Linked DNA regions of Homo sapiens. The protein of the gene in region 1 interacts with the protein of each later gene in a biochemical or structural test. Each region holds a gene or a part of one and is shown in the gene's direction. Other genes may lie near its edges. The genes, in order: CACNA1H and USP5.

The links.
Region 2: the proteins of CACNA1H (region 1) and USP5 form a complex in vitro, tested with the Homo sapiens proteins (2 studies listed by BioGRID, with this or other methods).

Annotation. Positions count from the first base shown.
Region 1 is NC_000016.10:1,219,050-1,222,495, forward strand, and holds the end of CACNA1H (voltage-dependent T-type calcium channel subunit alpha-1H), read left to right. Parts: coding exon 1-81; coding exon of another isoform or gene 82-259; intron 260-931; coding exon 932-1,945; 3' UTR 1,946-2,719; downstream 2,720-3,446. Other genes in the region: TPSG1 (tryptase gamma preproprotein), read right to left, coding at 2,739-3,047, 3,147-3,292.
Region 2 is NC_000012.12:6,847,430-6,855,432, forward strand, and holds the start of USP5 (ubiquitin carboxyl-terminal hydrolase 5), read left to right. Parts: upstream 1-4,720; 5' UTR 4,721-4,750; coding exon 4,751-4,861; intron 4,862-7,925; exon of another isoform or gene 7,926-7,971; coding exon 7,972-8,003. Other genes in the region: CDCA3 (cell division cycle-associated protein 3), read right to left, coding at 1,614-1,769, 1,894-2,000, 2,136-2,429, 3,038-3,167, 3,404-3,523. UniProt on the Homo sapiens protein: Deubiquitinating enzyme that participates in a wide range of cellular processes by specifically cleaving isopeptide bonds between ubiquitin and substrate proteins or ubiquitin itself.

The DNA of each region.
Region 1 (3,446 bases):
AGGAGCGGCGAGCCCCTCCACGCCCTGTCCCCTCGGGGCACAGCCCGCTCCCCCAGTCTCAGCCGGCTGCTCTGCAGACAGGTAGGAGAAGCCGTTGGCCTGCAGCAGAGGCTGGCGGGGATGGGGGGCTTGCAGGGATGCCTCGTCTCATCTGAAGGACCAGCAGACGAGGACAAGGCAGGAGGAGGGTCGCACTGGGTCCTTGGGGCTCCGAAGGTTTCTGCCTGCTGCTTGGTGGATCTTGGAGCATTGGGCCCAGGTGCGTCTTCAGGCCTGTGAGCCTGTGGCTACAGAGCTCTTGGCTACAGGGACCTGAGTCTTCTTGGACCCACAGCTTCAGGCCCCACGGTGGGCAGACAGCGGTTTCTCAGGTCCCGTGGTGGGCAGACAGCAGTTTCCCAGGGCCCACGGCGGGCAGATGGCAGTTTCTCAGGCCCCATGTGGGCATGGGTCCCGTGGTGGGCAGACAGCGGCTTTTTCAGTCCTGGCTTGTGTTCAGATGTCCCAGCCTTGCCCACCTGCAGCCTCAGCTCCTCTTCCTGCCCTTTCCTACCTCTTGCTGCCCAGTACAAGACGCCTGTACCGCACAGGAGCAGTTAGGAGAGCCCCATCCTGGGGGTGCCCAGCTGGGCTGCTGATGTCCAGGGGTGGGGAGGTGGCCTCAGCCTCAGCTCTGTGCCCCTGGGGGCCATGGCATCTCTGCCCACAGAGCAGCGGGTACAGGCTTTCCCCGGGAGCCTCACAGGTCAGGAGTGAGACTAGGACGTCCACACCAGCGGCTTCCAGCCCCATCTCGAGGGTCAGGAGCCACCCAGGGGACCTGCCCAGTTTGGCCTCTCCAGTACCTGGATGGTGAGGGGTCTCCGAGCCCTGGCCACTGACAGGGCTCTCCCAGGGCCCCGCCCCTCACTTTGACTCTACGCCCCCACAGGAGGCTGTGCACACCGATTCCTTGGAAGGGAAGATTGACAGCCCTAGGGACACCCTGGATCCTGCAGAGCCTGGTGAGAAAACCCCGGTGAGGCCGGTGACCCAGGGGGGCTCCCTGCAGTCCCCACCACGCTCCCCACGGCCCGCCAGCGTCCGCACTCGTAAGCATACCTTCGGACAGCGCTGCGTCTCCAGCCGGCCGGCGGCCCCAGGCGGAGAGGAGGCCGAGGCCTCGGACCCAGCCGACGAGGAGGTCAGCCACATCACCAGCTCCGCCTGCCCCTGGCAGCCCACAGCCGAGCCCCATGGCCCCGAAGCCTCTCCGGTGGCCGGCGGCGAGCGGGACCTGCGCAGGCTCTACAGCGTGGATGCTCAGGGCTTCCTGGACAAGCCGGGCCGGGCAGACGAGCAGTGGCGGCCCTCGGCGGAGCTGGGCAGCGGGGAGCCTGGGGAGGCGAAGGCCTGGGGCCCTGAGGCCGAGCCCGCTCTGGGTGCGCGCAGAAAGAAGAAGATGAGCCCCCCCTGCATCTCGGTGGAACCCCCTGCGGAGGACGAGGGCTCTGCGCGGCCCTCCGCGGCAGAGGGCGGCAGCACCACACTGAGGCGCAGGACCCCGTCCTGTGAGGCCACGCCTCACAGGGACTCCCTGGAGCCCACAGAGGGCTCAGGCGCCGGGGGGGACCCTGCAGCCAAGGGGGAGCGCTGGGGCCAGGCCTCCTGCCGGGCTGAGCACCTGACCGTCCCCAGCTTTGCCTTTGAGCCGCTGGACCTCGGGGTCCCCAGTGGAGACCCTTTCTTGGACGGTAGCCACAGTGTGACCCCAGAATCCAGAGCTTCCTCTTCAGGGGCCATAGTGCCCCTGGAACCCCCAGAATCAGAGCCTCCCATGCCCGTCGGTGACCCCCCAGAGAAGAGGCGGGGGCTGTACCTCACAGTCCCCCAGTGTCCTCTGGAGAAACCAGGGTCCCCCTCAGCCACCCCTGCCCCAGGGGGTGGTGCAGATGACCCCGTGTAGCTCGGGGCTTGGTGCCGCCCACGGCTTTGGCCCTGGGGTCTGGGGGCCCCGCTGGGGTGGAGGCCCAGGCAGAACCCTGCATGGACCCTGACTTGGGTCCCGTCGTGAGCAGAAAGGCCCGGGGAGGATGACGGCCCAGGCCCTGGTTCTCTGCCCAGCGAAGCAGGAGTAGCTGCCGGGCCCCACGAGCCTCCGTCCGTTCTGGTTCGGGTTTCTCCGAGTTTTGCTACCAGCCGAGGCTGTGCGGGCAACTGGGTCAGCCTCCCGTCAGGAGAGAAGCCGCGTCTGTGGGACGAAGACCGGGCACCCGCCAGAGAGGGGAAGGTACCAGGTTGCGTCCTTTCAGGCCCCGCGTTGTTACAGGACACTCGCTGGGGGCCCTGTGCCCTTGCCGGCGGCAGGTTGCAGCCACCGCGGCCCAATGTCACCTTCACTCACAGTCTGAGTTCTTGTCCGCCTGTCACGCCCTCACCACCCTCCCCTTCCAGCCACCACCCTTTCCGTTCCGCTCGGGCCTTCCCAGAAGCGTCCTGTGACTCTGGGAGAGGTGACACCTCACTAAGGGGCCGACCCCATGGAGTAACGCGCCCGGCCCCGATGCGAATCAGGCCTCCCCTACATCTGGGGGCGTTGGCCGCGAGATTCCCATTGACACCTTTGTTTCGTGTGCTTTTAAATTCAGGTTAAATGTTGCAATAATCTGATGCAGAAGACTCAGCTTCTCAAGGGAGAGGGAGGGGGCGGAGCGGAATAAATAGTAACTTATTTAAGAAATGCACTTGGATTCCTGCCATCAGTCAGGGGCGGGGAAGGGAGTACCATCCGCAGATGGGTGCAGCAGGCACTTGGCCAGCAGGACACAGGAGACTAGCAGAAGGAAGAGGCCGGGGAGGAAGAAGCCAGCCAGGAGGGGGAGCCTGGGGTACCCAGACTCTGAGCCCCCTGATGCTGTGATGTGGCGGCGGATCCAGTTCACGTAGGCAGGGACACGAGTGTAGACTCCCGGCCTGTTGGGGCGGCCGCAGCCCTCACCCCAGCTCACAGTGCCAGCCTGCACCCAGGCACCGTTCACCTGGCAGACCAGAGGCCCCCCGGAGTCGTCCTGAGGACAGAGAAGGCGAGCATTGGGAGCCGAGAAGATGGGGAGCCCCTCCCTGGGCTTCAGCCGCCCCCATCCTCTGTCACGGCCTGGCAGGCTCACCTGGCAGGCATCCCCGGGGCCCCGGGCACACAGCATGTCGGGCTGAAGGATGCTGCCCCCGGGGCCGGGATAGTCCCGGCGGCAGGTCTCTGTGTCCACCACGGAGACTTTCACCTCCCGCAGGCTGTACGGGGGTGGCAGAGGCTCTGGGGTGGGGGGAACAGGCTTCAGAGAAGGTTGGGGCACCAGGCCCTGCACTGGGGGGATGGGAGACCTTGCCAGACACAAGTCCCATGCCACCACGACCCTCGTCACGGCACGTGGGTTGTGATCTGACGTTTGGCTGCTGCTTTGGATCCA
Region 2 (8,003 bases), on another chromosome or scaffold:
AAAAAGACCCAGGTCCCATTTAAGGGCAGTAATGTGTTACAGGTGCTGTGATAAAGGCTGGGTACTGGATAGCTTGTGGGCTTATGGGAGGAGGCCTGAGATGGGTCAGGGGGAGAAGGTATTCAGCAGGTGGCTGGGGGACTGTGTGCAGCAGTTCGCTATGGCCTGCCTGTGGTGCCCATGTGTTTGTACGGGAGGGTTAGCTTGAGAAGGAATCAGATTATAAAAGGTCTTGAATGTCAAGCCAGAGAGTCCAGACTTTTTCCTAAGGGCAATGAGAAGCCATTGAGGAGTTCTGAGCAGAGTAGTAACATGATCAGTTATGCTTCTCAGAAAGATTGCTCCAGATCTTTCAGAAAGAAGCAGTGTAGGTTGATGAAAGGGAGGGACTGGCACTGGGGAAACAAGGTAGGAGGCAGGTGGCAAGAAATGCAAGAGCGACAGGACAGAGGGGTTAGGGAGAGGGATTAGGAAGAGATTAAAGATGTGGAATCAGCTGGAACAGTGGCTCATGCCTGTAATCGCAGAGCCTTGGAAGGCTGAGGCAGAAGGATCTCTTGAGGTCTGGAGTTTGAGACAAGCCTGAGCAACATAGTAAGACCCTGTATCTACAAAAAAAATTAAAAATTACCTGGGCAGGCTGGGCATGGTGGCTCATGCCTGTAATCCCAGCACTTCAGGAGGCTGAGGCAGGCAGATCACTTGAGCCTAGGAGTTTGAAACCAGCCTGGGCAATATGGCAAGACCTCATCTCTATAAAAAAAATACAAAAATTAGCCAGGCGTGGTGGCTCATGCCTATAATCCCAGCTACTGGAGAGGCTGAGACAGGAGAATCGCTTGAGCTCAGGAAGTTGAGGCTGCAGTGAGCTGTGATCGTGCCACTGCACTCCAGCCTGGGTGACAAGAGCAAGACCCTGCCTCTAAAAAACAAGCAAACAAACAAAATGTGGAATCACCAGGATTTAGTGACCAAATGCTAGGATATAGGACATTGGGAGGGAAGGATTCGAGATAATGGCCAAGGTTTGGGTTTGGTGGCTGGGTAGATAATGCTGTCATTCACAAGGATAGGGAAGAGGGAATGAGGAATAGCTTTTGGGGGAAGATCATAAATTCAGTTTTAGACAAACTGACTTTGAAGTACTTATAAAGCAGCTGGATAAAGGTCAGGGTTAGAGAGAGAGACCTGAAAGTTACCAGAATATAGGGAAGTGATAGCTAAAGCCCTAGAAGTAAACACCCAGGGAGAGCAGGGCCAAGGACAGAGCCATAGGGACACCATGGTTAAAGGGAGATGTGCAAAGAAGGCTCAGAGCATCAGTGGGCTCAGGCCAGGGAACGCAAGCTCTCTAGGCCGCCATTCTACACACAGAAAACTCGGTGCAAGGTTTACATATACCTTTTTAAAGTAACATTTAAAATTACTTCCTTTAATATAAAAGAAACACACAAGACACAAAGAAAGCCCAATAAAGCTGTGAGTCCCAGTTTGGTAGCTGAGGAGGAGTCTAAGAAAACAAGCCATTCCTCAGTATCCCTGGGAAAGAAGGGGTGAGAGGACACAGATATCACCAGGCCCTGGGTGACTGCATTGCTGGGGCCATGCAGGGCCTAGCTCTCCACCAAGGGAAAGTGCTGATTTTCCTTGTCATGGTCCTGGCCTTGCTCCCATGCTCGTCCTCCAGTTTTCAGAAGTCGTCCAGTTCCAAGAATGGCTCCTTCCTTTAGTTCACTAACATTTTCACTTAGGGGTGAAGGCCGCTTACCCTGAAAACGGCAGTGTATGAGTTGGGGGGAGTTGCTGTTCAGAAGAGGGAAGATCTGGGTAAAAGGGTCTCCCACCCTCTACGTTGGATATCCTAGTAACAGCTTGCACTTTCTCTTCCTTTACCTGTCGTAGTGTCAGGGTGCCAGGGGAGTTGTCATCCTGCAGGATGGTGAGGGGGGATCTCCCTAGTACCTTGCTGCTGTTTGGTTTCCATCTATTGCGCATAGAACCTGGGGTGGGTAAGGCGTTAAAGCAAGGACCCAAAACTAGGACTTACAGTTTATTCCTCCCACACTCACCCATGGACCTTATCCCAAAACATTATCCTAGTTTATCTTCCCTGCATCTTGCCTTAGATTCTGTACCTGAAGATCTGGGAGTCTCAGGGTCCCTTGAGGGCTTGTCGGAGCTCTGGCTGGCCACAGGGGTTTCTGTGGGCTGTCTTGCTTCCTCCTTGGAAAACACCTGTTTGGAGGGGAACTCAGTCTGGTTCCAAGGTGGCATCTGTTCCTCAACAGATAACTGGGTACCCAGAGGCAAGTCCAATTCAGAAGATAAAGGTGCCTCTGGGGGCAGAACAGGCTCTGGGGGAAGATTTGATTTAGAGTCTTCAGTTTCAAATACTTCACTCAGCTGTTTCACCAGTGGGCTTGGGGGGTCTAGAGGAAGAAAGTGAAGTGAACAGTGACCTTCTGATACACAACATTCAGCAAGGAGCAAAACATACAGAAACCCAGGACTCATGCCCAGGAGGGTGAGCAAGTGGGAAGAGAGAAATCAAGGAAATCAAGGTGAAAGGGAGCAATTTTTTTTTTTTTTGAGATGGGGCTTGCTCTGTCCCCCAGGCTGGAGTGCAGTGGCGTGATCACAGTTCACTGCAGCCTTGACCTTGTGGGCTCAAGCAATCCTCCCACTTCAGCCTCCTGAGTAGCTGGGATCACAGGCCCATGCCACCGTGCTTTTGTGTGTGTGTGTGTGTGTTATGTGTGTGTATTTTTTCTAGAGATGGGGTTTTGCCATGTTGCCTAGGCTGGTCTTGAACTCCTGGGCTCAAGCGATCTGACCACCCCGGCCTTCCAACGTGCTGGGATTACAGGCATGAGCCACCGCACCCAGGCTGGGAACAAAATATTGAGATAAGAGTGAGATGGGTCCGAAGCAGGAGGATAGAGGCCCCTTTAAGGAACCCTGAGAGAATGGCTTCATGGACCCTACCCAAGAATAATAGATGACAGCTTCATCAGCATTCCCTGGGCCCAACGCTTACCTCCACTGCTGGTCTTCATAGGTGTCCGTGCAATACCAAGAGTAGGAGAGCGGGGATCTGAGTCCTGGGCATGTTTAAGACCCTCCAGTTGCTCCCCTGCTGGTAGGCCTGGCTGTGGAGAGCTCTCCACCTGTCAAGACCATAGGCTAGAACAAGTCTGGGCCCTGACTCTTCTCTCCTCTCCTCCCCATATTCCAGGAAGGAATTGCCAAGGCCCTCAGATATCCAGCCTACCCCACACAGATTGAGATTGCAGAAAATAAGGCTAGGATAAGGGTGGGGTCATGACGGCTCTCTCAAAATCAGGTTAGGAAGAGACCCAAGAATTCAGACATTCTCTGCCTTTCCCACGCTGGCCCAGAGTACCTGGATGGGAGTGCGCAGGATGCCAGCACTAGGTGAACGGGGGTCCGCCACTCGAGCCAGATGCTTGTTGTGCGGCGGAGGCCGCGCTGGTGTGACTGGGACGCTCTTGGCTGAGCCCATCTCAACCAGGAGTTGCAGGGTGGGGGCAAGGGCCAGCCCGGGACGAGGAGGGAATGCCTGTGAGAAGTGACTCAGGTCTCAGCCCTTATCTCTTCCACGTCGGACCTTCAACCCTAAACCACCCTGTCTTCCCAGTTTCCAGTGAAGAAACTTCCTGGCGAGGGACCAGAGGCCTCTGCGGAGTTAATGACTGCTGCAGCTGACAAAATGGCTCGTTCTGGGCCTGCTGAGCCCTCTAACTTATTTATTAAATTATTCAAATCACTTACCGGGCCCCAATTCCACCTCTGGATGCACAACAGCTCGTGGCTCAACTCCCGAAGTTACCAGTTTCAAACTTCCCGCCACGCCCCCTGCCCTGACCCTATTGGCTGAGCCGACGTAGTTCCCATAGGCCCTCCACGTAAGACCCGCCTCGAGCCAAAGGAAGCTGTTGGTCTGGGAGAACGTCTATCATGGTGACTGTAGGTGTCAATGGACTGATGCTAGGCTTGCCCAGGGGTGACGCCTCCTTGATAAGGGTACTTCTGTTCAGTATCGGCCTGCGAGCCGTCCGTGGCAGGCTGAGGAGTGCCAGTCTTCGCTTTCGAGACGTCTAGTCTCAAGAACGAATTATTAAACAAAATAGAATCATGAGTGATTACACTATTATGCGCACATCCAGCTGGAGTTGTGATGGTTTTCCTGAGGCGAGCGATAGTAGCTTTATTGGTTGACAGCTGTATCAGTCACTCGACACAACCCCCTCAAGCTCCGCCTCACTGGATACCCCCTTTACAAATACCAAGACAACTGTCCCTCGACTTTCCGACCGGACAGGTCCCCAGGAAACTTTCTGGAATTGAGAGGCCTAAAACAACCGTCAGTTCCTGCTCTTCAATAGAAGGCACGCGAATGGACTCTAAGGGTCCCGGAGCCGGAGCAGCTGCGGAGCCGCAGCAGCTGCAACCCCGAAGCCCACCTAGCTGCTCTACGTGCGCTCCCGCCCTGGAGGAGTGGGATTGGTTCTTTCAACCATCAATTGCCTTAGGAGCGCTTCTCATTGGCGTCAGTCAAGCGCGGGGCAGGGGCGGAGCACCGGCAGGCAGGCTCCGTCCAACTGCCATTCTCGCGCGTCGTCTCCGCGGCGCATGCCCCTAACGAGTGGCGCTCATTGGACGGGAGGGGCAGGGGAGGGGACTGGGAACGGTGGGAGCCGCCGTGTGTGGAGAAGCTGCTGCCGGTGTCATGGCGGAGCTGAGTGAGGAGGCGCTGCTGTCAGTATTACCGACGATCCGGGTCCCTAAGGCTGGAGACCGGGTCCACAAAGACGAGTGCGCCTTCTCCTTCGACACGCCGGTAAGCCCATTCCCCACGCCCGCAACGAGCACGACTTCCTTCCATCGCCCTGGTCATTCCGCTGGGGCCTGCAAGGCTTGGGCTACCGCCTCCCTGCGATGCACCATGGGACTTGTAGTCTCCCACGCTCCACTCTGCCGTTGCCTTTCATTAACTGCGGCTGTCGTGTGACTACCGTCCCCGGAAGCCGCCGCGCTCACCTCTCCGGCTCCCCGCTTCGTGGAGCACTGTGGGCATTGTAGTCACTCACTGCCTTCGTTGCCGTTCTAAGCTAGGGGCGCAGCCCGACCGTCGGACTACATCCCCCAAGTGGACCCTTGAGAAAACCTGGCAGTCGGCCTTGTCTGCCGCGCACGGCTCTCCGGGTTTTGTAGTCTCGTGTAGGAGTGATGGGGACGACTCCCCACTGTTCTCGGCCGGGGTTGGAGTTGGGGGGTGGGGACCGCAGTTCCTAGGCGGTTAATAGTCTGGGAGTGGACTCTCAAGAAGTCCGATTCTGAGAAAGGCAGAGAGCCTCCACCCCGTGGTTAAAACAGACAGGGGGCGGGGAGGGGAGGAAAGAGGAGAGGAAAGCTCTAGTCGTTTCTCCTTTGAAGTGAGCAATGGCCGCAGCCCCCACCCTTCCCCCCGCCCCCCAGCCTATCACAGACAGCTGAGATAACCCCTTTTAAAGTATTCCTAGAGAGGTGGTTTCTTTCTCGGAGGATGCTAAGGCCTCTTTCCCATCCCGCTCCCACTCTTGGCTAGTTACACAAAGCCACCTCCCACACCATGCTTCACGTTTTGCAGGCTCCACCTGGTACCTCCCTTCCTGCAGTTCTGCCTTCCCTATGTCACCCTCAAGCGGAGGCCCTTTGGGGCCTGAACTGAGAAGGCAGCAGCTTGGTTGGGATCCGCCCCCCTCACCACCCCTCCCCTCAAGCTGCTGTGCCCTGCCCAGTGTATTCTGCCAGAACCAGCTCATGGCCTGAAAACTGCAAGTCAGAGTGGAAAGCCTTCATTACTGCATCACCAGTACTGAGTAGAACAGCATGATGTGAGGCCCAGTTCAGGATCATCACTGTGATTTGTGGTTTGCTTGGTTTGCTAGGCTTTGATCTGGGCCTCAGACAATGTGCTGCTTCTCTGAAGTCTGGCTTTGGCAGAGGTAAAAGAGCACTGCGCGGAGCAGAGCTCCGGGGTTCCCAATCCTTGGTGAAATCAGCATCTTTAATTTCCAACAGAGGAGTTTAATCACTTCAGAGCTCCCACATTCTTCCCAGGAGGGAAAGGTTTTTCTTAAATTACCAGCAGGTGGTAGAAGTCAGTGGGTCCCTCTTTACACTTTTATTCACTCCTGTCTCTCTCCTTAGTAACTGCTTTGAATAATCCAAAAAGGGTTTTTGTAATCTTCTGAAACTTTCCCTTTTTCACCCCAAGTCAAGAGATTTTCAGTGTGCCCTAGTTCTTTGCTAACCAACTTCCAGCATATTTGGTTACCTTCAAATTGGGCTCATGGTAGAAAGAGCTTAGTTGACCTCCCCGGTGAGAAATGCTCTATTTGTTCATGAACTTGCAGTACACACTGTTCCTAGGAAGTGGTACAGAGCAATCTATGGGACCAAGAACTACCTTAGACAGTGCACTATTTTTCATATCACAGCAGAGAAATGTTCAAGGCCACTGAGACTTTTATTCCTGGAAGAGGATGTCTGTTGTTGCTCAAAGCCTTGGATCTGAGGGAAGACCCTTATTGTCTCCAATTTCCTCCTCCACCTTCTCCATCACTCTTTACAAAGGCACTGGAAAACTTGGTCAGCTTTGGGGGAAGCCCATCCTCCCTTCTCAGCTGTGTTTCTGGGTGGACACCCGTCTGTCCCTGTTTTCACGGGTTATGTGTGTTCTAGCTATCTCAGCAAGTGTTGCGAGATTGTTGTCAGAACGGGATGGCTTTGAGATTGGTGATTTGTTGGGACTTCAGCAGGGATCTTATTGGTCGGAGGGGAGGCAGAGGAGAGAGGGTGGTGGCTATGGAATGCTGGACTTCATGACCCTGCCAGACTGGGTGCATGTTTAGCTGTGAGTCCCTAACAAGTCATTGTTCCCCTGGAAGCCACACTTCAGCAGGAGAGGAGGGAGAAGACTCACAGTGTGGACCAGGGTTCGACTACCTGGTAGAATGTGGTAAAAGAAAGGTCTTTTTCGCTGGATGTTTAGTCTCACCGCTGTAATCCCAGCACTTTGGGAGGCCAAGGTGGAAGGATTGTTTGAGGCCACACAAGTTAAAGACCAGCCTAAGCAACATAGCGAGACCCCACCTCTAAAAAAAAAAAAAAAAAAAATCTAGGCATGGTGGCATGTGCCTGTAGTCCCAGCTCCTTTGGAGACTGAGGCAGAAGGATCACTTGAGCCGGGGAGGTTGAGGCTGCAGTGAGCTATGATCGTGCCACTGCACTCCAGCCTGGGTGACAGAGTGCAGTGTCTCTAAAATAAAATTTTTTTTTTTTTTAAAGGAAAGGTAATTTTGCTTGCTGGCACACTCGGGTCAGATATACTGTTCAAGTGCTGGAATCTCTGCTCCTCTGGTCTGGAAGGTTTTCTGAATCATGGAGATGAGATAGGGTTTGTCTTAGGTGTCCCCTGGTTTGGGTTCAGTGTCTCACATGAAAGTCTTTCCTCTCCCACGAAGGGACCCTTTTTCCCTTTGAATGTAATCTCCAGCACTGGAAGTCCACAGTATTTGATCCCCATTTACTTTCTGGATCTGTTAGCCCCAGGATAGAGGTGAAGGAAGTCCTCTGTGATTGATTAAAGAGCTCCAAAGCCCAAGAAGGAGCAGGTGGAAAGATAAATGGTGACTGGTGTTGCTGTTGAATGGCGACGATGAGCTGGTGTTCCTCAGCCCCCTGATGTCCTTGTTGGTTGTTATCAAAGTCATGGGAGGAAATGGGGAGAATCTTAGCTATGTCCCAGGTCCTAAAAGGCTAAATAACTTGCCAAGGGCCACACAGTGTTAGAGAACAGAACATTTCTTCTGGAACCCAGCAGTTTCTGACTCCAGGTTTTGGTTTCCTCACCTGACCAGGCTTCATAACATCCTCGTGTTTTCACCCTTACCTCTTGTCCCACAGGAGTCTGAGGGGGGCCTCTACATCTGTATGAA